Linked DNA regions of Homo sapiens. The protein of the gene in region 4 interacts with the protein of the main gene of each other region in a biochemical or structural test. Each region holds a gene or a part of one and is shown on either strand. Other genes may lie near its edges.

Evidence for each region.
Region 1: the proteins of CITED2 (region 4) and LHX2 form a complex in vitro, tested with the Homo sapiens proteins (one study listed by BioGRID).
Region 2: the proteins of CITED2 (region 4) and FBXL5 form a complex in vitro, tested with the Homo sapiens proteins (one study listed by BioGRID).
Region 3: the proteins of CITED2 (region 4) and TFAP2A form a complex in vitro, tested with the Homo sapiens proteins (2 studies listed by BioGRID, with this or other methods).

What each region holds. Positions count from the first base shown.
Region 1 is NC_000009.12:124,007,312-124,014,912, forward strand, and holds the start of LHX2 (LIM/homeobox protein Lhx2), read left to right. Parts: upstream 1-4,456; 5' UTR 4,457-5,037; coding exon 5,038-5,157; intron 5,158-6,649; coding exon 6,650-6,852; intron 6,853-7,601. UniProt on the Homo sapiens protein: Acts as a transcriptional activator. Stimulates the promoter of the alpha-glycoprotein gene. Transcriptional regulatory protein involved in the control of cell differentiation in developing lymphoid and neural cell types.
Region 2 is NC_000004.12:15,624,294-15,631,525, forward strand, and holds part of FBXL5 (F-box/LRR-repeat protein 5), read right to left. Parts: intron 6,499-7,232; coding exon 6,373-6,498; intron 3,741-6,372; coding exon 3,592-3,740; intron 2,663-3,591; coding exon 2,580-2,662; intron 1,685-2,579; coding exon 959-1,684; intron 1-958.
Region 3 is NC_000006.12:10,411,958-10,419,716, forward strand, and holds the start of TFAP2A (transcription factor AP-2-alpha), read right to left. Parts: upstream 3,118-7,759; 5' UTR 3,035-3,117; coding exon 2,984-3,034; exon of another isoform or gene 2,724-2,983; intron 435-2,723; exon of another isoform or gene 1-434.
Region 4 is NC_000006.12:139,371,530-139,379,182, forward strand, and holds CITED2 (cbp/p300-interacting transactivator 2), read right to left. Parts: upstream 3,120-7,653; 5' UTR 2,884-3,119; intron 2,834-2,883; exon of another isoform or gene 2,735-2,833; intron 2,685-2,734; exon of another isoform or gene 2,610-2,684; coding exon of another isoform or gene 2,603-2,609; intron 2,424-2,602; coding exon of another isoform or gene 2,416-2,423; coding exon 1,603-2,415; 3' UTR 278-1,602; downstream 1-277. UniProt on the Homo sapiens protein: Transcriptional coactivator of the p300/CBP-mediated transcription complex. Acts as a bridge, linking TFAP2 transcription factors and the p300/CBP transcriptional coactivator complex in order to stimulate TFAP2-mediated transcriptional activation.

The DNA.
Region 1 (7,601 bases), on a different chromosome or scaffold from region 4:
CTCTGCCTTACAAACAGGAGACAGAGGTTAGAGAGAAGGGGAAAGTGCAGGAAGCATATCCCACTGGGGGTTTCCTGGGGGCATGCATGCTACTCTGGAGATGGACTTTTGCATGTTGGTGGCTTTGTTCAGTCCCTGCCACTCTAACCAGAATTGGGATTGTGACAGTCCAGGAGTGTCCCCTCCCTTTACAAAATGTAAACCTCCAGGATTCTGGAAGGTTTAAATTGGTAACATCTCTAACAGCAGCCTCAGTGCAGAGGGGACACACACACACACACACACACACACACACTTCCCTGAGCATTCCCACTTTGGTAAGGAAGGAGTATAATTTGCTGAATGGTGCAAGCAAGCCAGGAGGACAGAAGATGTTACACTTTACTCAGGGAACAGAGGCGGGCAACTGGCCCTGTGACTGCAGCCAACAGCTTTAAGAACACAGTCCTTTCTGCTTCAAGGTTAGGGAGACGTTCTCGCCTCTTTCTTCTTTGCAGTTATTATTCAAGAGGCTTCCCCCGACCCCAGTCCCCAGCACCATCCTCAGAGCTTCAGACCATACATTGACAGTGAGCAAAGGGGGCCCCAGGCAGGCGGGTCTGGGGCCAAGGAGGGCGGCTCCCCTGCGCGGATCCTTCCCTGGTGGCTCCCAAATCCGGCGTTTTCTCTGCCGCCTCTCCCTCGGGGGAGACTCGGAAAGGCTGCAAAAATCTGGGCGCCCGTTCGCTCGCTTGTCAAGAAGCAAACTGTCTTCACATTCTCCAAGAGCAACATCCCTGCCTAGGAAGAGGAAGGAAGAGGCAAAATAAATAAAACCAGTTAATGTTGTAGTTAACTTGCAAATCAAGTAAATCTGTTGGTGCCGTATTTGAGAAATAAACCATCACAGCGTCACAGCAAACACACACTTCTGAACGTCTTCATTTTGATTTAATGGTATATCAGCGTCAACTATCGCTTCCTCTGCTGGTACACACGGCCTGATGCCGCGGGAGGAGGGTGCCCATGTTTATCACCGAGTGAGATGACTAATTACACCTTGTCAATCACCGGCTATGAAGACATAAAACCAGCGCGCACAATGAAGTAGTTGCCTGCAGCGTCAATTAGTTGGCGATTCTGAGGTTATTGCGTGGCCCTGCTTTGGCCGCCTCTAATAACGGGACAGAGCGCCGGGCACCGCGCACTGATCAATCACCCTCCTTCCGCGGCCGCCCGGCTCCCTCCCCTCTCCCCCGCCGGGTCTGGCCTCACTTTCTCCGGGCGGCTTGCGCTTCCTCCCTCCGCGGCCCCGGCTCCGTGGCGCCGGCAGCCCCGGGAGCCCCGGGAAGTTTGCGCGCGGCAGCTCCGCAGCCGGCAGCCGGGAGCCCCGCAGCCTTCGGGGAGCGCCGGGGCTGGTGGCCCCTTTGTTGGAGGAGGCGTGGAGGGAGCGCTTTTGTTCTGAGTTAGTCACGGTGGCCGGCTGGAGGCTGCTACCTCATTATGCGCCGGGTCTGCTTGTCTGCGAGGAAGCAGATGGTGGGGAGGTAGGCAGCGGCGAGAGTGGCCAGACCTGAATTCCGTTCACCTGTCACCTCCCACAAAAGGCAGGTTCGGGGGACTTAGGCATTCGTTGCCACTTTCTGGGGGAGGGGGAGGTCGAGGGGCCGCCGTTTCCGGCGCCTGCGAAGGTTCCGTACCTGTCGGTGCCCGCTCCCCCCACCCCTTGCCTTTCCCTTGGCTGCAGCTTCTCGCACCGCGTAAATGTCACTCACGTGTCAGGATGTGTGTTTACAGCCTGTTCCTCTGCTTGTTTAGTCTCGGCGGACAGGGCTCAGCGGTTGCGCGACGTTCCCCGCCGCTGGGGGAGATTAGCAAAGTTACCCGCCTCTGGACCCCGGGGCCTGGGCCCCTAGATCCCGCCCCGCGGCGGGAGATGCGTTTGAGCCTTTTACAGACGGAGCGCGTCCCAGCCTGACGCAGAGGGATGAATAGACAAGCGCACCGGGCGGGAATCCCGACTGCCTGTGTATCTGGGGTCGGCCCAGCGTTGGACGTGGGCTGCTGGTCCGAGAGGTGGCGACGGAATCGCGTGCCTATATGTATGGGGGAGTGGAAAGTCGCAGGGTGTGTTTCCACGTTTCTTGAGCAGCCCGCGGCAAGAGTTGCTGAGTACCCCACCCCCCGCCCCCAGATCCTAAGGCAGCCCCTCGAGCTTTCCAAACGTATTGTATCCAGCCCTCCCGAGAGTGGAGTTGCACCAAGGACAAACACTCTAGCGTCATTACAAATTTTTTCTGCCCCTTGGGCGACCTCCAGATGAACCCTGGTGACTCTCAGATTGGATTTTCATTCCTTACTTTCTTTGAAAGAAAGTGCCCCAGATGCGTCAATAAAACATGCCTATGTATTCGTGTAGGCGTCCGCATGCCTGCGCGCCGGCCGTGTGCAGGCGCCGAAGCACACGTCTGTGTGAACACACGGGCACGCGCGTCTTTGGGTTTAGTGGTCCTTCCCTCGCGTTGGGGCATCTGTACACATGCAGAATATACACATATGATTGTAACTTCAAGTTTTTTCAATTATGCAAAACGACCTCGTAGGAGCACTTGCAGTGATTTAAGTAGAATCGCCTGAGCACGCAAGTGCAGGTATAACGTGCAATTTACCATTTTGCAGTTGCATCCTTCTTCCCAGCTCTAGACACTTACACCTGATGCGCATGTGTAAGACCCTAGCTCTTCAGTGGTGCTGGCTGTGATTTTGCCAACAGAGATAAAATTCGTGCTGGCTGTGTTATTGCCAACAGAGATGAACATGTGTATTTGCACACATGAACACAAGTTCATGTGCTTGGGCATTACACGCATACATATATTTGTGCACACATATATTTGTGTGTGAAAGTTACTTACACACGTGAAAAACATGATTTCATGCCTCAACTCTGTACCCTGTGAGGTAAACCGCAGGTCCTGACTATCCCCTTACCTGTCCTGGCAAACAAGTCATTTCAGACTGACACCCGCCTTGTCCCTATTAGACGGAGCCAAACCTGCCTCCGAAGCAGACCCAGATGGGACTCTGTAACCGAAGTGCTTATTCAGTTTTTGTCTACAATCATTTTATTTCCTAAATCCCTCCCCCACCAGACACCTGGGTATTTCCCTCCAGTCCCCAGGAGACTCTAGGGTGAGCCTGAAACCTGGAGGCTGGGGGTAGCAGTTGGGATTTACCCAGCACGCTACTTTGTTGGCCCCTGGGGAGGTGGTGCAGCCAGGCGGGTAAGGAGGACTCGCGCCATCAGCGGGGTCTGAGACATGGTGTGCCCAGTGGGCAGAGAATAGGCCTGTGGTTTTTAAGAACCTCACTGATATCGAATGTGTCTTGGAGTGAGAAAGTTTTTAATGGAAAAGGAGCAAGAGAGAGTAATGAAATAATTTGCTAAGTGCCTACTATGTTCCAGGCATTTTACATCCACAGTCTCTTTCAATCAACACGTCCATGCGGAGGAGAGCTTCTTGTCGCCCATTATAAAGGTCAGAAACAGGCTAAGGGAGGATAAGTCACTGCCTAAGGTTACAGTGCATGTAAATGGCAGAGCTAGGATTCGAACCCTGGCCTTTCTGAGTTCCTAAAGCCATGCTCGCCCCCACTCTTCCAGGCTGGGGAGAGACCGGGAAGAGCGAGAAGCTACACGCTGGGCTGCAGATTGGGCCCTAGCGGGCTTGGAGCGTGGATATGCTGGCTGGCCCCCCTCCCCGGGAGTCACAGCTCTCGCCGGTCTCGCCACTCAGGCTCTGCCGGGTACCCAGGAGGCTTGCACGGCCGCCTGCAGCCCGCTGTGCAGAGCCCGGGCCGAAGGCGGAGCTCGATGGGAAACGGCCGGCCGAAGGCTCTTGCAACTCTGCCACAGGCCTGCCTTCCCGGGCCTCCCAGGCGGGTGCCTGAGGCCGCGGCTCCAGGCCGAGGGGAGACCGCAGTGAGACGAGCATCCCCTTGCTGCGCCTTCTTAGGATAGAGGGTTTAATTTTCCTTTCTGAAGATATCGCAGGAAGCTGTTCGTATCTTAAAAACTCCAAACCCCGCGCTCTCCCTCCTCCCTGCCTCCCCCCCACCCCCGCCCTCCAGCCTCGCCCACCAGCTCCCACCATCTCGACTCTCCTCTGCTCCTCTTGCCTCTCCCCTCCCTCTTGGGTCTCCCGCCTTCCCGGAGCACGCGCTGCCAGGGCCTGGGGCGCCGAGCGGCCAATGGCACGGCGGCAGGACGTGATGTCAGGCGCGGCTGTAGAAAAGGCGCGGAGGCTTGCGCTGGCGCGGACTGCAGAGCCGGGGCTGGGCTAGGCGCGCGCTTGGAGAGCATTGCGCGCGGCTGGGCCCGCGGCCGGCGGCTCCTCCTCCCACTCTGCTCCTCCTCTTTTTTCTCCTCCTCCACCTCCTCCTCCGCCTCCTCCTCCTCCTCTTCCTCCTCCTCTTCAATTCTCCCGGTGGCTCGACTCGGCTCGCAGGCTTCGGAGAAACCCCTACTCCAGTCGCCGACTCAGCGCCCAAGAGGGTCGCCTTGGGCTGGGGGCGCACCCCAGGGAGGGGAGGGGTCCAGGCAGCTGGGCCGCCGCGGACACCTAGCGGCTTCAGGGTGAACCCCGACCGCAGCCGTCGCCGCCTCGGGCAGAGTTTGCGCCCTTGCTTTGCGCCCCGGGCGCTGAAGCCGGGCGGGCGATGCCCGCGGCGTGAAAGCGCCCGCGGCGGGCGCCGACCTCTGTCCTAGTCTCCTGCTCCCCCCGCCCCGCTTGTCCCGTGCCCTTGTGACCCTGGCTTTGGCGCCGTCGCCCAGGCGCCCCGCAATGTAGCTGCCCCTGCGCCTCGGCGGGAGGCGTCCTGCCCCGCGAGCGCCCGGGGCCCGGAGCCCGGCCTGGGGGCTCAGCCGAGCTCGGGCGGGGCCGGGGCCGCGGTGGCGATGCACCGGGCCCGTTAGCGCCAGGAGCGCCAGGCAGCTGAGGCGGGGGGCAAGCCCTCCCTCGGAGGAGCCGCGCCCCCGGCCCCGCCGGTCCCGCCGCGATGCTGTTCCACAGTCTGTCGGGCCCCGAGGTGCACGGGGTCATCGACGAGATGGACCGCAGGGCCAAGAGCGAGGCTCCCGCCATCAGCTCCGCCATCGACCGCGGCGACACCGAGACGGTAGGCGCGCGGCTGTGGGGTCGGGGCTGAGAGCTGGGATGGGGCCGGGCCAGTCAGCGCCTCTGCTCCCCGAAGTTTGGGGAGCGTCCTTCGTGCCGCACGGGACTGGGTGCTGGGGATCCTCGGTCAGAATGCAAGGCCGGTGGCTCCCGGTTCGGGGGAAACCCGGCTGCTGGGACGCAGAAGGGAAACAAGGTTGAAACCGAAATCTCGGCCCTGGGGGTAGAGGAGAGCGTTTCTTCCGAACTGGAAGCGAAGTCCCATCCGCGGCCCGGGGCGGCTCCCTTCTCACCTTGCCCGGTGCCGGGGTCGACAGCCCCGCGCTCTCCTCCACCTCTCGGCTCCGGTTGCTGGCGGCGCCGCGAGCGGCGCCAGGGAAGGGCGAACCAGCTGGGAGCATTGGGGCTCCAGCCGGCTTGGGCCGCTCCCAGCTTTCCGGCAATCGGGGATCCTCCTCAACCCCCAGCGCAGTTTCAGAGGCCGAAGTCTTCGGGGCCAACATTTGTCGTTGATCGCGTCCCCAGACCCTTGACTGGTCAGACTTAGCCAGGCCAGGGCTGGGAGTTCAGGCTCCGGCCTGGCCCTCGCCGAAGGAGACTCCATTTGGATCTCTACACCTGGCTCCGCGGGCCCAGCCCCAAATAGCCAGTTCCTCGCCTCAGGCCTCCCTGGGGGCCAGACGAGCAGACACTGCCCGACCAGCGGGCCCAGAAGTGACCTTTAGGAGGCCGCGGAGGTGGGGAGCACGGGAGAAGCTTCTCTGCTCCGGGAGCAGGAGCAGCGGCGCCAGTGTCCTCCCGGCCTCTGAGCGCTTCTTCGGTTAGACCTTCTCTGCTGGTCAGTTTGGATAGGGAAGTATTTGGGTTGAACCTGTCCTTCACCCACGGACTTTGAGGGTGTCCCTGCACCCCACTTACCTCATCCCCGGACCCAAGAGGGCCCCAGCCCGTGTGGCAGAGGAGCCAGAAGTTGGCTGACTTGTCCTGGCCTTAACCTCTGGTCTAAGGATCCAGGGATCACTGGAGCTGGGGCCCAGGAACTCCGCTGTCTCTCCAAAGAGGATTCTGTGTGGAGGGTGACTTAATGGTCACCTTATCCCCCGGGTGGCTCATTTAAGAAGCAGTTTAGGGAAAGCTCTTGGAGGGCTTGACTGGAGTAGCTGTCCTGGTCCCTAAACACAGCCCGAGCATTTTGGGGGAAAGGACAGGGAGGACTGGAAGGAAGAGAGGTAAGCACCAGAGCCATTTAGGCCAGGAGCCCGGCCTGGGCCCGTGGCTGGCGAGGGCTGCGCAGGCAGGCCTGGGTTCTGAACCGCCCAGAAATGGAAATGGGCCTTTTGGGGTGGGGGGAAGCGCGCCGCATGTCCTGGCAGCCCCCTCCGCGTTCAGGGTAGCCAAGGCCACAGAGGGAGTTGTGGGTGCCGGTTTCCCGGCGGCGGAGGGGCCGCTGGCTGACGCAGGCGCTGCTGTCTTCCGCCTCCCTCCCTTCGCAGACCATGCCGTCCATCAGCAGTGACCGCGCCGCGCTGTGCGCCGGCTGCGGGGGCAAGATCTCGGACCGCTACTACCTGCTGGCGGTGGACAAGCAGTGGCACATGCGCTGCCTCAAGTGCTGCGAGTGCAAGCTCAACCTGGAGTCGGAGCTCACCTGTTTCAGCAAGGACGGTAGCATCTACTGCAAGGAAGACTACTACAGGTAGCCCCCCCACCCAACTGCCCCTCAGGACCCCTCCCCCCAATCTCAGGCACAGTCTTACAGTTTGGCCCTCTCCTTTCCGTTTAGTCCCAGGAGAGGGTTCACTACTCAGGACTCCCCCGCTCCCCCCCCAAGTTCTCCAAGCCACCACAAGTTGGGTGATAACCTTTTAAAGCAGCAATTTGGGGAGCTCTTGGAAAGGTCTACGAAGTAGGAGAACCAGAAAAAAAGCAGAAGCTGCCCTCCTGCTCGGAGCTTAGACCACAAAAAAGCTTGAGTTGGGATCCTTGCTCCCCTCTCTCTTTGAAGTTTCTTGAGTTAATCCGAGGTTATAGAAACAGGCACCCCCAAACCTAGGCAGCCCAAGCTGGAGTGAAACACAGCTGGAAAGAGAGCTGTGGGAGTGGGTGCATTTCCAGGTCTTTTGAGAAAATGGGAATGAAAGGTGGCCAAGATCAAAGAACCAGAATCACTAGTAGACTCCAAGTTCTCTGTTTCTCCTTCTCCCCAGTTTTAGGATTAGGGTCTATGTATATTCTCTCTGTCTCTGTCTCTACGTCTGTGTCTCTCTCTCTTTCCCTGTCTCTGTGTTTCTTCCAAATTATAAAAGTCAGTAGGATTCCCAGGCGCTGGTTTGGAGGGAGGAGTAAAGGTTGAGGAGGGGGTAAGTGGTAAGTGTCTCCCTCCACTCCCAGGTAAAGGCTTTCCTAGGGCTTGCGGAGACTCTGGGTGAAGTAGAAGTCTCTGTA
Region 2 (7,232 bases), on a different chromosome or scaffold from region 4:
TTATTGAAAATCTATTGTGTATCATTGTTAGATGCCTTATATATATTCCTCTTACATAAGCCTCAAAGTATAAGGTTAAGTATTTTGCACAAAGCCAGTCATACAGAAAAAAGCAAAATCAATCTACATCAAGTCTGCCATGCTCCCAAGTCAGTGCACCATGGTATTTTCTCCAACAGTGCATACTCGTAACCTAACAAATCTTGAGGTGGGTCCTATAAAACATATAGAACCTAGCTGCTGAAAAGAGCTACCTGTCTGGGCTGACACATGTGTCACCTTCAGCCCTTCTTTCCTCTAGGAGGTTAAAAAAAAAAAAAAAAGTCGGTTTAATCTGCTGAAGATTATGCTTATTAAAAAAAAAAACAGAAAAGAAAATGTAGAACTTCTTCCACATGTTCTCTTTATGACTTAAAAAAGCAACAGAAGGTAAGCTGATCATGATCAAAGACCAAAATTTCTAAACTCTAGCTACATATGAAACTCTAGCTCAGCTTTGGCTTTTGTAAACACTTAACAGCCGTGTAGTCAGACTAAATGACTTCCAGGGACAGCCTACGTTTTCCAAAACCCTCAGTATAAAACTATAACATACAGAAATAATACACAGCAACAGAATATGCATATTTTCTTGTTACATGTTCTTGAGAGTAAAAATTGTACCTTCTTCATCCACTAAAGTACCTTAAAATATGTGATGTAGCCATTTACTAAGTATTTATTAAACTTTAGAATTTATGTTCTTCCATACATCACAATGGATTTGAACTGACAGAAATGAAACTTCATACTGATAACAGAAGTTACACTGCTCCAAAACTCTGAAGTAGGGCAGATCTTGGTTAATCCTTTTTGCTAAGTAAATCAACTGAAAAGAATGACTTAGATCAAAATTTTTATATTCCATTTGGAAATGAGAACACGTCTATTTCTTAATATTCTGGAACTGATAACTCACCTGAGACCATGGTCTGTGATCTGATAACATCCAGATAAACTGAGAAACAGAAGTACACGTCCAGTCTCTTGATCAGATTTTTCACTCCCAAAGTAAATTAAGTCTTTTCCCCTAGGCAATCTAGTCCTTGCTGCTTTTCTACACATTGCAGAAGATTCTGGGAGTGATGACATAGTTCTTAAAGCTGTTCCTGTACAACAAAATGAGTGACCACAATACGCAAAGGCTGGAGAAGCACAATGCTGCTGCCAACAGACACTAGTCCTTAGTCCAACAATGTCCTTACTAAAACAACCAGAGGTGGAACAACTAAAGTTGGATGCTGTTTCCATTACACAAAGACTTTCAACATTTCTATGTCTCCATTCCACAGTATCTTCAATATCAGCCAAATCTTCAGCATCTAACATCCACACATAAGGAGAAGTGAAATTCTCAGAAGAAACAGGCTTAGTCCAGGGGTGTTCATTATCTATTTCTTCTCCAATGCCCTTGTTAGTTAAATCGTGCAAACAGGCATACTGCTTGGTGGACTGCATGGTAATGTCTTTATTTTTCCACGCAGTTGAAGTAATTTTGCTTGTAGATGTTTTCAAAAAGCCACTTTGATGAGATGTCAGAATTCCAAGAGCTCTGGAAATCTTCTCTAGGGCCACATCTGTGATTTTCTCACAACCAGACAGATCAAGATGCCGAAGACTCTGGCAGCAACCAAGCCAAGACCAACTATAATTAAAAGACAAGACTATTAATGAATATTGTTAAATTTTTCAAAAGCATTTGACTATATGCATGTAGATGAAAACCAGAAGAAAGATTTGACATCTAATATAATCACTTAAGTATTTAGTGAATTATCTATTGTTAAGGTACTATTCTTGATGCTAGGGATACAAAAACTCAATGAGAGTAATAAGGAAGTCAAAGTATTCCTAACCTAACAGAAGGGTAGGATTTGAGAGGCGTAAGGATTGGAAGACTTAAGTTTATTATCCTAAAAGTAGTCAGCAGAAGTAAGGCTGCAAACACATGAAAGAAAGAGAATAACCGACGGTTAATGAGGAAGATCCATAAGAAACAAGCTCTAGGAAGATGGAGCATTAGCTTTAGCCCGAGAAGAGTATACCTCTTCCTCTGCAGCAGGAAAAAAGGTGCTGATATAAATAGTTGGGTGGGAAAGAGGGAGTGAGCAATAATACAGAGAATTGGTGGTCAAGGAGATATACTCTGGGAAGAAGGTGGCTTGAAGAAAGTTACACTATACTATTTCAGAGTAACTGTGAAGAATCTAAGAGGGAGCTTTGCCAAATGGCACTTAGAGCCCAACTAAAACTAAAACTTCTTAAAAACATATAATACCAATCTACATGGTTGCACAGCAGGGCTCAAGGGCCTAGACAAAATATAGGACTACAGAGATTGCAAGATAATACAGATGGGATTTTTGGATCAGCTGGGACCTATGAGTAAGAAGTGAAGAACTGGAGGGTGCTATCAAATTATACTCAGACATGACTGAGATTTGATAGTAAAAAATAATAGTATGATTAAACTGCAATTACATAAATGAAACCTTATAAAATAGTTTTTCATTATATTTAAATTGTTTAAAATAACTAACCTGTCAAATGCAGAATCTGAAATGTCAGTCTGGGTAAGATCCAGATGCTCCAGGTTAGGACAAAGCTCTAAAATCTGCCTAACCTAAAAGGCAAGAAATTGTCACTGTAAAGATCTGCAGAACTTCAGTTAGCTAAGTAACAGATGACTATTAGTAAACATAATCTAGTTCACAAACTTTTGTGAATATAAAAAAAAATCACTTGAATACTTGAAAAAAGTATAATAAAATATTCTGGGCTCAAATCCCTGAGAATCTCTTTTTTTTTTTTTTTTTTTTTGAGACAGAGTCTCGCTCTGTCACCCAGGCTGGAGGGCAGTGGCAGTATCTTGGCTCACTGCAACCTCCGCCTTCCGGGTTCAAGCGATTCTTCTGCCTCAGCCTCCTGAGTAGCTGAGACTACAGGCACACGCCACTACATCTGGCTAATTTTTGCATTTTTAGTAGAGATGGGGTTTCACCATATTGGCCAGGCTGGTCTTGAACTCCTGACCTCATGATCCACCCACCTCGGTCTCCCAAAGTGCTGGGATTACAGGCATGAGCCACCGCACCCGCCCAAGTATCTGTTTTAGCAGTTATGAGACTAAACCAGGATTTTTACATTTTTAAGGAACACTCAAGATTCTGATGTAGGAAGTCGTAATATCCACTTTTATAAAACAGTGATTTCATCTCATTTGCCCATCTTACCATGCCTTACATATTATTTAAAAAATCACATAAAACTGGGCTTTATCACTTAACATCTGTGAAACTGAATAAAATGTTTAACCTCTTCTAGTCAGTTTCCTCATCTGTAACATATAGGTAATGATAATTATGCTACAAAGATTGTTGTGAGAACTGCAATGAAATAATAAGTAACCTAGCAGTGTATGCCTACCCATAGGAAGGCACTCAATAATCATTTTTGGGTTTGTTTCCCCTTAATTAAACTCAGGAATGAGCAAACCAAACTCTTATCATGCTGTTTTTCTTAATACCCAAACTAGTGTTAATTTAAACATACCATTTTGCTGGAAACTGCAGAGCTGTATGCTAATACTAAGGTTTTTACAGAAGTACCAACATATGGTAGAACGTTATGAATTAAGCCATGGAGTAAACGTTTTTCCATTTGTGCAATGCTGATAGCAATTGATTCCTCCGCAGACTCTTCTGTAAAATGAATTCAAAAGTCCAAGAACTTGATAAACTGATAATAATTAAGCTACTCAAGCGCTCACCAAATTGTTAAATATGACATACTTTGTGCTATCCTTATACTTTCTTATGTAAACCATCCCATTTTTAGGCAATGAAAAGGTTTTGGAAAAAAATGTGAAAACTGAAAAGAACAGCAAAAGTTTTCAAGAGAAAAGAAAATATGATATCAAAAGAAAAATGATCCATAGTAAAACGTACTATCACTGATTCCACATAACTAAAAAGGGCACAAAGCTAGAAAAGATTTGAAACTCAACTAAATTAGCCTGATCATAATGAATCAAGCAAAGGAAGGTACTTTAGAATTTCTAAGAAGCTAAAAATGAGCATGGCTTTTGGTTTTACTTAATAACTTCTGTAAAGCTTGGATGTTTACAACAGAATGTACTACTGTAACATCCACCATGAAAACACCATAAACTCCAATTCGAAAAAAGGAAAAAACACACTACACTAAAAAGAATGAATAATTGTATTGTATTACCTTTCTCAGGATCCTATTGTTATTATTCTTACCTAAAGACCAATTTGAATGTCTTTAAACATAAAATGATTTAACAGAATAAGTTAAGGAAGTCTCATTTAAAACAAAACTAAGTATAGCAGACAAAAGGATATCAACTAAAAGAATTTGTTACTCATGGTTCCTTGTTTAGATATTATCCTAAATTCCTCCTTTAGCCAGACACAGACACACACACACACACGCACACACACACACACGAAGATAAAATATAAGGAGATAAAAATTACTTTAGTGAGCCCTACTATAATTTTATTCCCAAACCATTCTTTTGTTTCTGTGGCCCTCACTATCTAAATGTATACTATTTACTGTGAAAATTTTAAATTTTTAATTTTTTATTGATATACAATAATTATGCATATTTTGGGGGTACATGTGATACTATGGAACCTGTATACAATGTGTGATGATTAAATCAAGGTAACTGGAACTGTGAAATCTTTAAGAAAGTTAAACATTCTATGAAAAACAATAACTTCTTAGGACAAGTAAAAAGACAAGGCAGCCAAACCGAAAAAAGCACTGAAGTAAATGACAGTTTAGTCTTTAATAATCAACAGATATATTATCTAAAAAGGCTCAATCTTTACAGCGTTAACTTTTCCTTTTCAATATGAAGGAAATTGAGTCTTTCCTCTGGCTATCTTCAAGTATGGAGACAAATACACTGAATTTGTGAGAACCTTCAACATTCTTACCACGGGTATTATGAATTAATTTTCTAGAATGAATAAACTGAGACTTCCTTAAGTTGACATCTGAGCAAATATCTCATCTCCTTCAGGTCTTTACTCAAATTTCCCAAAGGACCTTAACTAATCGCTCAATTTAAAACTGCAATTTTAAATTCTTCTTGGCATGTTTTCCTTGTCTTATTTTTCTCTACAACACTTGTCACCATCTAATATGGAATATATTTTACCTGTATTTATTGTTTGCCTCCTGTCTCTAAATTTTAAGCTCAACAAGCGCCAGTTTTGTTTTGCTTTTTTCCATTTTGTTCACCATTAGATCCTTCATACCTAAAACAATGCCTGCCACAGGTAAGCACATCACCAAATCTATCAAACTAGAATAGACCTTTTCCTTATATAGGACATTTTGAATCTTTACATCAAAATGTGGCACATCTGCGTTTCATAAAAATAAACTACTTTAGCTGCTGATACAACAATCTTTATACTTACACTGTTACTTTCCACGTGTCTTTTTTCCACATTTAATTCTTTCGCCAGACCAAATTACTTTAAGCAAGTAACTTTATAAATAAAATTTCCTATAGTTTCAGTTTTACCAACTAGAAGAATGTCTCATCTGTTCATTTTTTACTATTTTACCATCTTTTAATAATTATTATCTAGAATATCCAAGACAGAATTTGTTTTCCTCCTCACACTTCCAAATAGCATCTCTCTGCACAAGTATGACAGCATTTTTCCATCATATACTTTAAATTAAAAATTATGTTTTCTAAATTCTCTCTCATTTGTGAGTTGTTTGGAGTAGCGATGAAGTCTTATCCATCCTTGAACTCTCCCACAGTGTTTAATGAATGGCTACATTAGTTTTTGTAATCCCTTACCATTTACAAACAATATTTATGTATATTACTTCTTAATTCTACAATAACCTTATTAGGCAAGTATTAAGACTATCTACAAACGAGTAAGTCGACTCAACAGTTTCATCCTATTTCCCTCAAGCCATAGATGACTCAATAGATGCTGTGCAACTGATCACTTGAAGTGGTGCTAAAATCACATTGTAAACTACAAAGCACTATAATAAACGTACATTATTTTCATAAGAAAAAAGGTACCATTTTCTGATTTTTGATTTTAATATAAAAACGAGAAATAATCCTATGCACTCTTTAAAGTACTTCAATTAATTTAAAATTTCATTATTATTCCTTCAAATTTTAAAAAGTAGTAGGCTTAGAAACACCAGTTTCTTTAGAAAACACAAAATACATAAATCTAATACCTAATAATTATAAGTACTTAATTATCAATTATTAAAACACTATGTAATAATTTTAATTCCAAACAAGCTTACCAGATTCATCAATGTCAGCATCTTCATCCCACTCATGAAAAGCACGACTTTCATCTTTCCTATTTTTCACCCATTCATCATCAGGTTCAGTATCAAGTTCAGTTGCGGGACCACTATACCAGTCACCTACTCAATGAATAAACAAGTAAAAGGTTCAAAATAATATCAGATTGCCTGCAATTATGAAAAACTAAGCTATTTACGATAAAAATCTCTACAAAGAGAAAACATCTGAGCCCTAGGCAATAAGCAACTGTTTTTTTTTAATACTTTTAAGTTCTACGGTACATGTGCACAACGTGCAAGTTTGTTACATAGGTATATATGTGCCATGTTGGTTTGCTGCACCCATCAACTCATCATTTACATCAGGTATTTCTCCTAATGCTATCCCTCCCCCAGTCCCCTACCCCCACCACAGGACCTAGTGTGTGACGTTCCCCACCCTGTGTCCAAGTGTTCTCTTTGTTCAATTCCCAACTATGAGTGAGAACATGCGGTATTTGGTTTTCTGTCCTTGTGACAGTTTGCTAAGACTGATGGTTTCCAGCTTCATCCATGTCCCTGCAAAGGACATGAACTCATCATTTTTTATGGCTGCATAGTATTACATGGTGTATATGTGCCACATTTTCTTAATCCAGTCTATCATTGATGGACATTTGGGTTGGTTCCAAGTCTTTGCTATTGTGAATAGTGCCACAATAAACGTATGTGCGCATGTGTCTTTATAGTAGCATAATTTATAATCCTTTGGGTATATACCCAGTAATGGGATGGCTGGGTCAAATGGTATTTCTAGTTCTAGATCCTTAAGGAATCGCCACACTGTCTTCCACAATGGCTGAACTAATTTACAC
Region 3 (7,759 bases), about 130 Mb from region 4:
TCTTAGCGGCGGCTTCGCTTGAGCTTCTAATAACCGCGCTGGGCAGCGTTCCTGGAGCCTCCTAATAGCAGATATTCATGACTATTAATATTACACGAATACTTAATAAGGGAAGAATGCCTGGAAATCGAGCGTGAAGCGGAGAGGCAACTCGCGCCGGAGCCGGCTCTCAATGCAGTCCATTGACGGGAGTCTCAGTGTAGCAAATCGGAGTGGGGAGAGGGAGCGCGAGAGACAAAAAGCGAGCGAGAGAGGGAGCGGGCGAGCGCGCGGGGGGCCGCGGCGCGGCGTCTGGCGAATCACAGGGAAGGGGCAACATTTTAAAAGGTTGCAGGGCATGCAAAAGTGAAAGAGAAAGAGGCAGAGAGGGAGACCGAAGGAGAGAGCGCAGAGAGGGAGAATGTGTCTGCGTGCGTGTGTGAGAAAGAAAGTGTGGGCGAGGGAGAGGAGCCCCGGGTGGGGAGAGGGGAGGGAGGGAAGGAGGGAGAGCCCGAGAGGAGGAAGGGAGGGAAAGAGGGAGGGAGGAAGGGAGGGAGGGAGGGGGAGGGGGCCCAGCCGGAGCGCACGGAGGGGGAGGCCGCGGGGGAGGGGGAAGGGGAGAGGAAGCGAGCGAGGACAATCAGACCTAAAAGGCTGGGGCAGACCTCGGGATGCAGCGGGGGTCGTGCGTAGCGGGTAGGAGCTGCTTGGGACCGCGTCCGGGCGCTCGTGGGGCTCTCGGCGCGGCAGGCGCTTCCCGGCCCTGTCTGGCCGCGGGCTCCGCCGCTTCGCAGCCGAGTCTGGGACTCGGGACTCGGCTGCCCGCTGCTGCGCGGCTCCTCCATGACCCGGCGCCCTGCCCGGGACCGGCCCGCTCGCTGCACTGGTCCTCTCCTCGGCCTCCTCTTGAGCTTTCCTCGGACAGGGGCACCGTGCGCTCCCCGGCCACCGTCGCTCTGCCCTCGGCTCTCTGGGGCCGGGGATTCCGGATCGGGAGCCGGGATGCGGGCCGGGGCGCGCACAGACGCTAGGCGGCCCAGCCCGGGCGCCGCTGGCACCGGCTCGCGGCTCCCGGCAAAAACCCGTCCGACTGGCTGGGCCACTCCCGCCTGACGCCCCCCCAGATGACACGACTAGCTCTCCCGGCGTGCTGCCTTTGCCAGTCTACCCGCCAGGTTGTCAGAACAAGCGGCACCTCGCCTCCTGCGTGTCCCTACAGAGCCCCGGCACAATCAGACTGCCCCAAGCCAGCTCCGAAACCCGAAATCCCCGCTCCGGCGCTTGCCCACCACGGCCAAAGTTGTGGAAACAGCTTTGACTTTATTCTCCTCTCTCTCTCATCTTTTTTTGCCTCGCTTACACACGCATTCACACTTGCCCCCACAGGATCCCTCTAGGGGTGCAAGTTCATCCCCCACCTAGCCACCCACCCCATCCAGTCGGCACCTAGAGCCGCACGGAGGTTCGGACCCCGCCCGCCGAGGGCGCCCACACCTGGAGCTGGGTTTCGGCCTCTGCGAAAGTGAAATGCCCAAGCCTCCGGCCAAAGCCCAGACCAGTACAGTATGAATTGTCCTATGAGACTGAGGGGTTCGGCTTCATTCCTACCTGCCCGCAAAGCTCGCCCCCAGCCTCGAAAACAAAGCGACTGGTCTGACGTGGGGTCCCTGCGCCCCTCCTCTAGCGCGACAGGACCCCCCCAGGGAAGAGCCAGTACCCGTGGGATGTCACCCCGTCCCCATCTACCGGGGTGGGGGGCCTGAAAGGAGAACGATTTAAAATAATCTTCAGAAAGAAAAGGGAGGAGGGAGCGGGTGACACATCGTTCACATAAACCCAATTTCTGGTTTCGAGTGAAGTCAAGATCTCCGCCCCTGCGCCTGCACACACACCTCCTGCCTAACATTCTCAGCTGCAAATGCCAAAAAAGAAAAAAAAAAAAAACAGCAAAAGTTGGGACTGCCACCTATTTATTTAGGTAATCTCCAGCCCTACACACCCCAACCCCTCTCTCGGACTCATTGCTCATTACAGTGTTGGTTGTAACCGTTCCCAGCGCCTCCTGCGGGTGGACAGGTCGCGCTAGGGTCTCCCTTGCTGCCTCAAGAAGGCGAGCTCAGGGGACTCTGCGTTTTAAAATGGGTTCCAAAGCGGCGCGCTCTGTCGGCCCAGCGGGCTTGCGGCACCAGAGGTGGTCTGCAGCCGCGCAAGGATTCCCACGGTCGTTCTGGGCTGGTGCAGAAGCTGGTGCTCCCGCACCCAGCGGCCAGCAGGCTCGGCGCAGCACATCTCCCCACCCCACCCCCACACACCCCCGTGGGGTGCGTCGATCCTGTAGCTCAGAGGGAGAAGCTACTTAGAACTTCGTGAAGCACAGAGGATCTGGAGCGAGCCCCGCAGCTGGGATCAGTGGTCTTAAGTTGAACCCGCTTACAGGAAGATGCAGCCCAGCTCACAGCGAAGTGTGGGGGGGCCGTCTCTAAAGCCGAGAAGGGAACCGCTTTAGAAGTGGGGGTGGGGGGAAGAAAGAATGAATGAATGAATGAATGAATGAATAGAAAGAAGAAGGAATATTAAAGATCGGAGAGGAAGTTCAAGAGAGAAAAGAGTTTTCTCTTTCCTTTCTGTTCCTGGTGACTTGGGCCCTCAATCTCGATGAAGATAACACGAGGAGTGCACAGGCAAGTGCCCAGTTGCCAGCAATTGCTTCAAAAGCCCATGTTCTTCTTTTCCCCCATTCTTAGGCACAGCCAAAATTGGTCAGAAAGGGGAGTAAAGTGGGACACGAGCTTCAAAGTAGGGAAACCAAAGAAGGGAGCATCCACGTCCTCTCTCTGCAGCTTCTCCCCCGCGTTCTTCGGGCGAATCCGAGGGACGGGCGCTGCGCTGGGGAAAGTTTGTCCCACCCGCGTTTCGCAGCTGGTTGCAAGGAGAGGAGGAGGAGAGGGAGGGTCAAGCTCGGAGCCTGTGACCGCACGGATGATCGAGCCGGCGTCGCGCTTACCTCGCAGTCCTCGTACTTGATATTATCCGTCAATTTCCAAAGCATTTTCATGGATCGGCGTGAACGGATATGCCCCTCTCGGTCTCGCACCCAAGTGGAGCTACTCTCTGGGTGAGCGCAAAGTGCTGGCTGCCGGCGGTGAGCGCAGGAGGAGGAGGAGGAGGGAGAGGAGGTGGAGGAGGAGAAGGAGGAGGGAGAGGAGGAGGGCAAGGAGGAGGAGGAGGAAGAGGAGGGCGAGGAGGAGGAGGAGGGCGAGGAGAAGGGCGAGGAGGAGGAGAGAAGGGAAAGAGCTCCCGTGTGCGCTCGGAGATCTCCCTCTAATGGTAGAAACTTTTCCCTTTTCCAGCTCTTTACCAACAGCCTAATCGCCTCATTAGCATATCAACAATAGTCCAATTGCTCGCCAGTACCACAATCTGCCGCCGGCCGCTCCGACACAGGTATAAAGGCCTCTCTACGCCGCGAACTTGCTTCTAGAGCGCACTCCAGCCTGCGAACTGATAAAACCTTCCTCGAGCTCCGCCGCGAGGCCCTGCCCCAACACCCCCTCTCTTACCCCAATTCCGCCACATTCCCCTTCCTTTCTTTCTCCGCTTCCTTTTCTCCAGAGATGCCTTCTGCAAAGCCCGGCACTGCTCAAGGTCCAAGCGCCACGCCTGGGGCCCAGCTTCTAGCACTTCTCCCTTAACCCTGCTACCACGATCCGAGCTGCCCTTTTGGCCCCGTGCAATTTTATTAGAAATCATTATCCCTTTCGCAATTAAACATAACCACCAAACCAAGACCGGCGAAGTCACTCCAGGATTTTTTCCCAACAAGGGATCGCCTCCGCTCGAGGCAGCCACCCCCTCGGGCCGCAGCGCCTTGGGAGTTTTATTGGCTTTGAGCTTTCCCCCAGGTTGGAGATTCTGCCAAGCGGCTCCGGTGGCTCTGCTGGGGTTTGCAATCCCTTAATTGCAGCGTGTAAAATAAAAGTTGTACCCTGAAGAGGTTACTTGACAGCTCCAGGGGTTAAACAATTTTTCTCCTGTTTGTGTGAAGCTAGGGCCAACTGACAGTTCAAATTGGTGTTCAGGCTAAGGTTTCCTGGGTGCAACGTGGACACGAATACAGAACTCCTATGGAACTGCACACCCGCTTCTGAAGTTGAGCCTAAAAACAGACGTGTGTGTGCCTGCAAGTCTAGATACCGTCTCGTGCGTGCATCAAAATAAATCACCGGGAACCGACTTTTAGCTGTGTTAATCTGCTCTAGTTTTCCCAAGATTCCCCTTTTTAATTAAAGCAGGGAGAGTTCCTTCATGATTTGGTGATGCTACTAACGCGGGCGTGCTCGCGAGGCAGAGCCCGGCTGCCGCGGAACCTGGAGGCCTGGGAGCCACCTACTCGTCCAGACTGGTCAGTCCGGGCTTTTGGACTCCTCACCGGGGCCTGCTGGGTCCTCTGGGGCTTTTATCCCTTTCGGTTTTGGGATTTTTTTTTAAGTAAGAAAAAAAAAAAAGAAAAGGACCTAATGTGACACTAGGAAATACAGAGTAATTAATTTTCCTGGCTGAGCTTCCTCGTTTGTCCTCCAAAAGAAAGTTACCTCTGTCTTTTCTCTCTGCTATATGTACAAACTCCTTAACTACACTAGGTCCCGCCTCAGAGTTGCTCTAGTAAGGACCTTTGATTCATCTGGGCTTGTTTCTCGAAAATCTCCAGGCCTCCCATATTTCCACCGGGCGTTCCTAAAAGGGGATGGGAACTGTGGCAGATTGGAGCATTCCCTCACAGGTGGAAGGAAGGCAGGAGCTGGGAGAACTCCCCATTCCACCCAAGGCTGCAGAAGGGGAATTCTCCCTCCAAACACCTCAGCAAACTCCCCAAACCTAGCAGAGTAGGCAGAAGGCTCCAAAAAGCTAGGGAGAAGCCGGAGCTGGCAAGGGGCCTTACAGACCCAGGAAGCCCTCCCCATGCTCTGGGCCTCCCTTGCCCTACCTGAACTGAGCACAATTCCTCGGCTGAACCGGGCTGGAGGCTTGGCGCCGCCCTCCGTCCAGAAAATGGTCGACTTTCCAGGGCTAGACCCTGCAGGGCTGTCCCAGCCTGTCGCCAGTGCAGTGGTTTGAAGTCAGGATCTGGGCTGCCAGGAGCACCGACACCCTCCCAGCAGCGGCCATAGCCTGAGCAGGCCAAACCCTAGGCCTGAGAGCATGGGTTTTTACACTCCGTAGACGTCGCCGCGGTGTGCTTAAGGGAACTCCAAGTTTCGCTTTCTTGCCCTCTGCGGGCTTGGAAAGGCCGCCCTCCATCCTCTGCCACCCCATTTCAACCCCCGTTTCCACCTCCCCGCTGCCCCGCGCCCAACAGATCTCCGGCTCCGCACCCGCTGGGGCTGCTAAACTGTTGTTGTATTCCCGCCGAGGGCGCCATTGAGGTGCAGATTGGGACCTGCCGGCTCTGGACTGCCGCCCCCGGTGTAGGCGCTGATGAAAGGCCCGGGCGAGCGCCAGGGTCGCCTCTGGAGCCAGCCGAGCTGCATTTATGCCAGCGTCATTACCACGCTAAGTCGCTTCATTGCATGTCAATGCTCCGGCGGGGCCAGAACCCCGGGACAGCAGCGCCAGGCCTGGGGTTGGAGGTCGGAGATCCAGGCCTGACGTGGGGGGCATAAAAAGGGCGTCGCGGGGAAGAGGGAGTATTTGTGTGAGAGACAGAGTCACAAAGAGAAAGAGACAGTGAGGGGCCAGAACGACTCTCTTTTCTCCGATTGTCAATGCCCAGTGGGAGCCGGGAGCCCAACAGGCCCAGCCCATCAGATTCGGCCCCTCCGGGCCCCAAATCCGCTCGCCCCACCCGAGATCCAGGCCTCCAGCCACTTGCCTAACTGTGAGCCCGCAAGAGCCAGGCCCGCGGCTCCCTCCTTCCTCCTCCTGCGGCAGTCTCGCGGCTTTCAAACCTTAGTCGAACCCACAGAAGGCCCAGTCCCAGGCCAAACCTACTCAACAGGCACCTTCTCACGGCCTAGGAATTCTGCAGCGAAATTCACTGGAATTTGAGGAGAAAACCCAAAGACTGCTCCGAAAGGACTCCCCCAGTCTTCAGCCTCCAAATAAGAGAGTTAGGAAGGGCCTTTAGCCCACAGGGTCAGGAAGGGAAAGGTGTGGATTCCCGGGATTTGTCTCTGGTATGGGATTTGCATCCTTAAACCACGAGGTTTGTCTAAACTTGCGGATGAAATACCATTTAGTGAGGCTTAACTAGGGAGAAGAATATAAAAGAGCTCACTCTTGATAAAAGTAATAAATCCAAGGGAAAAAAGTACAGAACGCAAAAGGCCTTTCTTTCTCCAACTCCAGGTAGCTTAGTGAAGACTGCACTTCTCAGAACTTTACTTTTAATGGCCTAAATCTGAAACAAGAGAAAGAACTCGACCAGGAGTAGCAAGGCCTCAGATTTTTGGGGGGAAGTTCAGGGCATTAGATTCGAATTGTCCCCTGGGCTTTTGGGCACACAGAATCTCACCCTCACCAGGCCTCTTGGTTGGGGCGAAAACAGGGCCTCGCGGTTCTGATGATGAAATCGGCGACAGGCAGAGCCTTTTACCGCCACCATCCTGGCCAGAGCCGCTCTGTTTCCCGAAGGGAAAGTGTCTGGAAGTTGGAAGGAGAGAGCTGGACAAATGCTTCCTTGGCCAGGGTCGGAATCCGGGGCTCAGGAAGGACAGGAGCCAAGCCTTGGATGCCTTGTGGTGTCCGCGGCCTAGCAGGGCCAAGTTCCACAGGCGTTGGTTTTGGCAAATTCACCACCCCCCTGCCTCCTCACCCACCATTCTCACACTCCCTCATCCGTAGCCCAGGCGGCAAAAACCCATTTCAGGAAGTGGAGTGAGTTGCTAGCTAAACTTCGGGCAAACTTTGTATCTCCTACAGAAACACGCTGCCTCCGCGACCCAGCCATCTGGACCCCTTTCCATTCTTCACACATCCTAGATCTCCCGAAATCTGGGGGTACCAAGAGAGACAGGTGCACCAGAACCTGTCCAACACTCAACCCTGGGGTCTAGGGCGAGGCCGCAGGCGCAGCAGGCTGAAAACCTTCACCGCCGCGCACCACAACCCCAGGCCTTCTCCCTCCCCCCTTCCGAATTAGTCATCCTCCCAAGTTTCTACTTGAGGTGGGAGGGGGGTGGGGGAAACGGCCACAGCACAAACCACAAGTGACCCACCAGGCCACCTGTGGAGCGTGCGCCGGACTTCCCCGGCGCCGGGCCCCGCGGGCTGCGCGCTTTGCGCCCAGCACCGCAGTCGCTGCCTGCGCCCGTTTTTCCTGTCTTCGCTGTCTCCTGGGAGCTCTCCTGGGCGCTGCCAGGCGCGCCTCACCTACGACTCCCCTGCCCTGGGCCACGGCGCTTCCTCTCCTCCTCCCCGCTCCGGCCCCCTCCCCTACTCCACCCCTGCCCACCTCAACCCCAGCCAAGGCAAACCCCCCGTACCTGCCAGTCCCCCATTTTGGCAAGTATGGACATCGCGGCTCTGCGCTCCTGGCGACTGGTCCCCGCCGGGCATGGGCTGGAGGGCTCGGTCGGGCCAGCTCCCTGGAATCGCTTAGGCAAATCCTCCTTTTTTACCTGCTCACCAACATCTCACCTGGTCATAAAGAGCTGGGTTGCTACCTGCCGACGCATGCGCGCTGGCCCAGGAATTCACTCCGCCAGCTGCAGTCCCAGCGCCGCACAGAGCTGACCTGGGAAGTGATGGATTTATAGCCGCGGCAATCTTGCCATCAGCTCCA
Region 4 (7,653 bases):
TTTCAGGTGATTTGCATCCCATGCATGCAACAGGAAAACTCAGAATTCAGGAAAACAGGGCATGCTTAAGAGGGAACATCTTGTAAAGACTGTAATTTGACCTTTGAGTCAACCTGAGTACATTTTAAATATTATAGGACAAAAGCCTCAAAGTGGAATTCTGCCTCATCTTTCTCAGAACTATAAACCAGTCAGACACTGTTTCAGAGATTACGCTAGAAAATATGTACCTATCCTTGGCACTTTTGCTGAGAAATAAAACTCTCATCACTGGAGATAAAGGTAGATTTATATTTAATGCCACCCATCAATCAATCAGTGTATTATTCCAATCTACCTCTATTTAAGTAGTTGAATCAGGTATAAACAGAAACACTTGATTTTTTTTGCCTCCTGCCCATTGAAAAAGATAATGTTGAGTATTGCAAACCTTTCTAACTCTGGAGTACACTTGATATGATGGCAATTAAGAAAAAAAAAAAAGCAGTGACAACTTTGCAGCTTTTGATTAAAGCACACCAAGAGGCATGTTACAATGATAACAATGAAGCATTATGCCAATTATGTTAAATCCTGCTCTCCGCTTAAGCTCATCATGACCTGTTTTAGTGTCCTGTAATTTATCCTTTGGAATGCTTACTCTCATCAATAGTGTTCAACTCAAAGACGGGGGGAAAAAAGCCACCAAAGGGAACAACCACCCCCAAATGACTTCTAGAAAACAAGTTATTTCTTAACTTTTTATTGACATTGGCAAATTAAAATAGAATAAATTAACAAGTATTTTTTCAAAAAAATGTTTTGTACAAAAATACTGTCAAAATTTCCTAAAAAGCTTTCAACACAGTAGTATCTTTTCATGTACTGAATATAACTATTAGCACAGTGTCAAAAATGTTGAAGACAGAAACAAAATAAAAATCTGTGAAATGTTTGCCACTGACGACATTCCACACCCTATTATCATCTGTACATATGGGGGTGGGGGGGGCGGCGGGGGGGACAGCCAACTTGAAAGTGAACAGTATGACTTTCCTGATCCAGAACAGTTTGGCCCACATCTGTTTAATCTTCCAGTTTAGCATATTTTAAAAATTAGTCTGTACTCAAATGCATAGTTAAAAAAATGAAGCGAGATGGCAGTTTGTGCAGTAATATCTGCCCTTCGAAGTTCATGCAACCAACTAATGCAATTTTTCCTTTCACTCGTAAATCTGAATGCAGTTCAGTCATTTGAAACCATCTACAAAATCCACAAGATTAAGCAGTTTGCCAAGATTAATATCTAACAGTTGAGCACTGGAGAAAGTGAGGGAAAGGAGTAAAAACAAACAACGAAAAAGACCAAGTTAGCTAGATATTTCAACTACATAAGGGAGGTGGGTGAATGTCAAGGCTACAAAAACGAAACAAAAACAGGAAAAAAAAGTGGCAGCAATTTTTTTTAAAACCAATTTGTACAAGTTTATAGTTTACTTTGTTTCCAAGTTCTCAAACCTTTCAAGATCTGAAAAGTGAGATACTGTGTCTAAGGGAATGTTTCTTTTAATTCACGCCGAAGAAGTTGGGGGTTTGATTTCTTTCGCCGGGGTTTCGATCGAGTCAACAGCTCACTCTGCTGGGCTGCTGTTTGCACACGAAGTCCGTCATAAAATCAAACTCGTTTTGCCCCAGCCAGAGTTCGGGCAGCTCCTTGATGCGGTCCAAACCCATTTCTATCACCAAGGACATAAGAACTTCCTCGTCGATGAAATCAGTGTCTATGACATTGGGCGGCAGCATTGCAGCGGGGACGTGGGCCACGGAGGCGGGCATGTTGCCGCTGCCGCTGCCGCCGCCGCTGTTGCTGCTGCCCGCGCCGCCGCCCGAGCTGCTGCCAGAGCCGCCGGGGGTGCTGCTGCCGCCCGAGCCGCCGGGGGTGCTGCTGCCGCCGCTGTGCTTGGGGTTGCAATCTCGGAAGTGCTGGTTTGTCCCGTTCATCTGGTGGCCTGCAGCAGGGTGCAAATCCGGCATGTAGTGGTTGTGGGGGTAGGGGTGATGGTTGAAATACTGGTTGTTGAGCTTCTGCAGCTGCATGCTGGCCGGCAGGGAGCCTCCCTGGCTGGCCACCGGGGGACCCATGAACTGGGAGTTGTTAAACCTGGCCGCGGGGGCCAGCGCGCTCGGGGGGTGCCCTCCGTTCACAGTCCCCGGCCCCATCGCATGCCTGATGCCGCTCGTGGCATTCATGTTGCCCGCGCCGTAGTGTATGTGCTCGCCCATTAGGGCGTTGAAGGCGTGCTGGGGCTGCTGCTGCTGGTGGTGATGGGGGCTCGGGAACTGCCCCATGCCCATGCGGTGGGCAGGGTGATGGTGCAGCCCATTGGTGCCGTCGGGGAAGCGCCCGTGGTTCATGGCCATCATATGGTCTGCCATTTCCAGTCCTGGAAGTGAAAAGGGCAGATAATGAGACCCGCGCCACACGTGTCGCCCACCACAGCGCACCCCACTTTTGCTCGCCTCTGCCCCCCAGGATTCCCGGGCGCACGTCGGCTGCGAACCACCACCCCCAAGATCCCACTAACAGCCTGTGCACCCGGGCTAGCCACCACGGAAGAGCTACCACTCATAACACAGCCGGACGCTGCACAAACAGCCCCTTCCCCTGCGATCGGGCGGGGGGACCCGAGCCCACACCCCCTTTGCTCCCCGAAGTGGCCTAATAAAGGAAGTGCCCCGTAGCCCTGCTGCGAACTTCAGGCATTAAATCAGCCCTCCTCATCCTGTTGTTGCACATCCTGTTGTTATTCCCCAGCTTCGCCTCACGCTCTTCCTCCGGGCAAACCCTGCCCTCGGAGGACTGGGCTGGCAAGAGCCCCAGCCAGCTTCGCCCGTCGCGCTTACCTTCCGTTTTTGCGATTTCTGCTCCGAAGACCGAGGGCGGGCTCGTCGCGTCCAGGACCGGCTCAGCAGCACATAGAGGGGACCTTCCTGGCGTGCAAAGCGCTTCGCTGTCGCGATGTCGGCGCCGAGGTCTCGCAGCGGCCGCTGGGGCAGATTCGGAGCCGTTCCCTTTTATTTCCCCTCCGTTGCCCTCACAGCTCGGCAGGACCGCCCGGCAGCTGCCAACAATGAGCTGTGTTTCTTAGGGCTTTGGCCACAGTTAATATAGGCATTTCGGAAAGGCGGAGCGAGAGCCTCCAGGGCGGGCGGCGCCAAGACGCGGATTCCGGAACACCGCGAACACCCTGGACCGGGTCCCGGAGCCGCGTCCCCGCCGCCCGCGGCACGTGCTGCAGAGGCTGCGGGGCCCGGGGGCCGCCCAGTCGCCCCGTCGCCCCCCGACTCTGGTTTCTTCCCGGCCCAGAAACGCGAGGTTGGCTCAGCCACCCCCGAGGCAGGGGGAAAATCCTCCCCTGCCGCCCCGCCCGAAGGTAGAGCCTGCCGGGATAGCCACGAGGAGAGCTCACCGCCCCCCTCAGGCTGGATCTACCCCACCCCCAGCTTTCTCACTCGGTTCACCTAGCGATCTGCCCCGCTCTCTACGGGAAAAGGGGACTCGCCCAGCGCCCCCCGCCCTCCAGAGTGCCCTTGTGCCTCCCCGGTTTTGCAAAAGCTTCCACAGGCAGCGAAGAATGGCTGTGCTTCCTCGAGTTGGGTTTTAAAGACCCGGACAAATAATGCGCCCTTTCCTGAGCGCGCCTTCCTAGGCTGTGCCTTTGTGTTTTCATACGGGCAGTGGGTAGACCTACTCTAGATCACCGCTTGTAGATGCATTTTTTTCCTCCACTCCTTTCAAGGACAGGAGCTGGGGGCGGGGAGGGGCAGCCGCTGCAGGTGGACGGAGCGCGCTCGAGGGCCCGGCCACCCCCGCTCCCGCGCCCTGGAATTCCAGTCCGCGCTTTCGGGCCCGCCTGCCGCTCCCGGGGTACGTGTGCTTCTGCTAAGTTTGCGTTTGCAGCTCTTGGTAGCTTTGGCATCCGAGCTGAGGCGTCTCTGCTCTGTAAACAAACTCAGCGATCCTCGTCCCCAGATCCACCTTTTTGCACATACACAGTTACTTGCTTCTGCTGTTGCCCTGGATCCGGGAGGTGGGGGTGTGTACAAACTTGCAGAGCCTCCCTCCGGGCTCTGCCTGACGGTTTGGGGTTGATTTAGAAGCAAACGGGTTTGTAATTAAGAAATTTGAGGGCTGAGTAAGGCTGCTCTTGCTGGAAAAGGAAAACAAATAGATAACGTGGTAATCGCTTTGTAAATAAAGTCGTTCTGGAGGTGGGCACGTAGCTGCACGTCCCGTATGGCACCACGCGCACACACACGGCTGGGACTCTTCCTTTTCAGTGAAATTGTTCAGTGGGGCAATGGGCGATAATAATAACCTTGCTTCCACAACGCGGCACAACGAGCCTGGTCGCCCGTTTGGTTCATTGACTTGCAAATAAAACCCCTAACACAGGTCTGGGCTACTACCAAGTCGGAGCTCTCTGGCTTTCTCACATGGGGAAGCCGAGTTGTTTCCCCAACACCATGATGGGGCTGTTCTGAGCTTTTACATTGCTCTTTATGTGGTAAAATCGAGTTTAGCGCTCCGAATAAGGACTTCTGGGCAGTTGTTTCTTCATAACTCGATAGCCATTGAAGACTTCCTGCTGCGAAGAGCGAGTCCGCCTCCCCGCCCCCCCCTCGTCTTTTTCCCCCTTCTTGCACACAAGACTTTTAAAGGCCCTGTTTCTTGAGGACTGGAAATTCTGATACATTTCCCCGTTCAGGAATTTGCAAAAGAGACCCAATCCTGATTATTTTCGTCTATGACCCCTCTGTCTTTTCCTAGTCAGGCATATTTTTGTAAATGTTGTTACTTTGTGTCTTGTCTTCTTTCCTCTTCCAGGCTCTCCGGCAAACCGTGCAGGCAAATAATTTTTAAACCTCAAAAATATTTACTTTTTAGAGATACGGGCACATGACACATTGCATTGTTAGTTGCAACAATTCCCTATTCTCCTAACCTCCCACCACCTTTACCTGTAGGTCAGGACATGCAGTTTACCGTATCAGAGGCTTGGATACCTGAAGGGGCCACTTCCTATAAAAAAACAGATTCTAAAATATTGGTAAAACCCAACCTGAAAAATCGCGGGATTGTTTACTTTCCCTTCTTTGTACTGCAAGTGTCTTTCGACACAAGAAACAGCTTTTGAATGTCTAATCTAAATTCCTCTTGCAACCACTAAGGAAAGGTGGAGCTCCATCCAGCTCCAGTGGTTCTACCTACTATTGGGAAATCCCTGGAAAGGTCACCTGCCCATCCCCCATCCCTTAAAGGAGAACAAAATAGTTCTGGGACCAGCTGGTTGGAACATGGCATGCTTTGTTCATTTATTCTCATCCGTCCACTGAATGTCCTCCAAGTGCCAAGTGCTTTCTTGGTGCCTGGAGATACAAACAAGATAGGAACTCATGGTCACAGGGAGAAAACTGACAAACAGGCCTTGAACACACTGTGATAAATGCCACAAAGGCATTGAAGGAAAGGGCTTTGGAGAGCACATAGGAGGGACACCTACCCCCCTCCTGGGTGCTTTGGGAAGGCTTTCCGGTGGAGATGGTGACTAAGTGGAGGCCTCAGGATGAATGGAAGTTTGGTCCCATTAGGAGTGGGGTAGAAAATGTATGGCTAGGGAGTGAATGCAAAGATGAGAGAAATAAGGTTGGAGAAATATGCTGGGGCCGGATGCCAAGGGCATTGTGGCCTCAAGCTGAGAAATTTTGCTGTATCCCAAAGACATTGGGAGGCAGGTAAAAGCTTGTGAAGCCATGAGATAGGAAAGATTTGGATTTTAGAAAGATCAGGGCAGTACTGTGGAGAATGGTTAGAGAAAGTAAGACAGGAAACAGGGAGTCCAGTTAGGGGGCACTTACAGTAACCCAGGGCTCCCAGAAGTTCCGTATAACCAGGGTTTATCCCGTGAACCTGGGTGAGCGAGCAAGTGATCTGTCTGTGGCCCTCACAGCACTGAATGGTTGTATTCATTTCCCAGAGCTGCCATAACACAGTACTATTTAGGTTGGTGCAAAAGTAATTGTGATTTTTGCCATTGAAAGCAATGGCGAAAACTGTAATTACTTTTGCACCAGTCTAATACAAACTTAAGGCTGATCAAGCTTTAAACAACAAAACATTATTGTCTCACAGTTCTGGAGGCTAGAGGTACAAGGCCAAGTTGTTGGCAGGGTTGGTTCTGAAGACCGTGAGAGAGAATCTATTCCGTGTCTCTTTCCTGGCTTTTGGTGGTTTCCCGGCAATCTTTGGTGTCCCTTGACTTGTAGATGCATCACACTGATCCCCACCTTCATCTTCATGTGACGTTTTCCACCCCCCGCCCCCCTGTATGTGTATCTCTGTGTCCAAAGTTCCCCTTTTGACAAGGACTCTAGTCCTTTTGGATTAGGGCTTCTCCTACTGGCCTCATGTTAACTTGATCACCTCTATAAGCTCCTGACTCCAAAGAAGGTCATATTCTGGAGGTTAGAACTCCAACATATCTCCAAGATATTTTTGCGGGGACACAATTTGACTAATAACAGTGGTAAATAAACTGAGTAATACAAGACCCCTGCTGCTGACAAAGAAAGTTGCCACCTGGAACTGTCTTCCCAGACGTCCTACTGGCCCATATTCTCATTTCTTCATGTCTCTGCTCAAATATCACCTCAACAAACTCTCCCTGACTGTCCTACCCAAATAGCAATATCTCTCTTGTTTCCTTGCCCTGCTTTATGTTTCATCTTAGAGTATCTTCCTACCTGACATGCTGCATGGTAAATTGACAGTTTACTGCCTTCCCCATTAGAATGACAGCTCCATGAGAGCAGAGACCTAGCCTGGTTGTTCATTCACTGTCTGAAACAAGTCCTGGCAGGTATTAGACTTTTACTAATTGAAGGGTGAATGCATGAATAAAATATGGCATTGGCACTATGGGAACCCCAATGAGGGGCCAAGGAAGACTTTCTGGAGAAGGTCACTCTCAAGGCTGGAGGTAGGCCAGGTGCAGTGGCTCACACCTGTAGTCCCAGAACTTTGGGAGGTTGAAGTGGGAGGATCACTTGAGCCCAGGAATTCGAGACCAACCTGGGCAACATCTTGAGATCCTGTCTCAACAAAATAAAATTAGAAAATGAGCTGGGTGTGGAGGTGCATACCTGTAGTCCTAGATACTGGGGAGGCCGAAGCGGGGGGATTGCTTGAGCCCAGGAGTTCGAGATTGCAGTGAGCTGTGATCACACTACTCCACTCCAGCCTTGGCAATAGAGTGAGACCTTCATCCCTTCTACCAAAAAAAAGCTGGAGGTAGAAAAGTCAAGTGGAAAAGGAGAACAGCAGCTTACCTTTGTCTGCATTGTGGCAGCCACTTGGGCAAAACTGTTATCTGTTTGGGAAGATGACTCACCTGGGCATCACTGACTGCTGAGTAATGGACAAAGGTCCCCATTGGTGTGAACTTTTGACTGAAACAAGTTTTTAGAGGTGAGTCTCTGGCTTTAGCTAAAACCTGAATTGAGAAAAGGCTGACTGAAGGACCCAGCTTCAAAAAATATATTGAAAGACCTCATACTTGTGTGGTGCAGCTAGGGAAGGGAGGAAGGTGAGATTTAGCACTGTATTTTGTACGT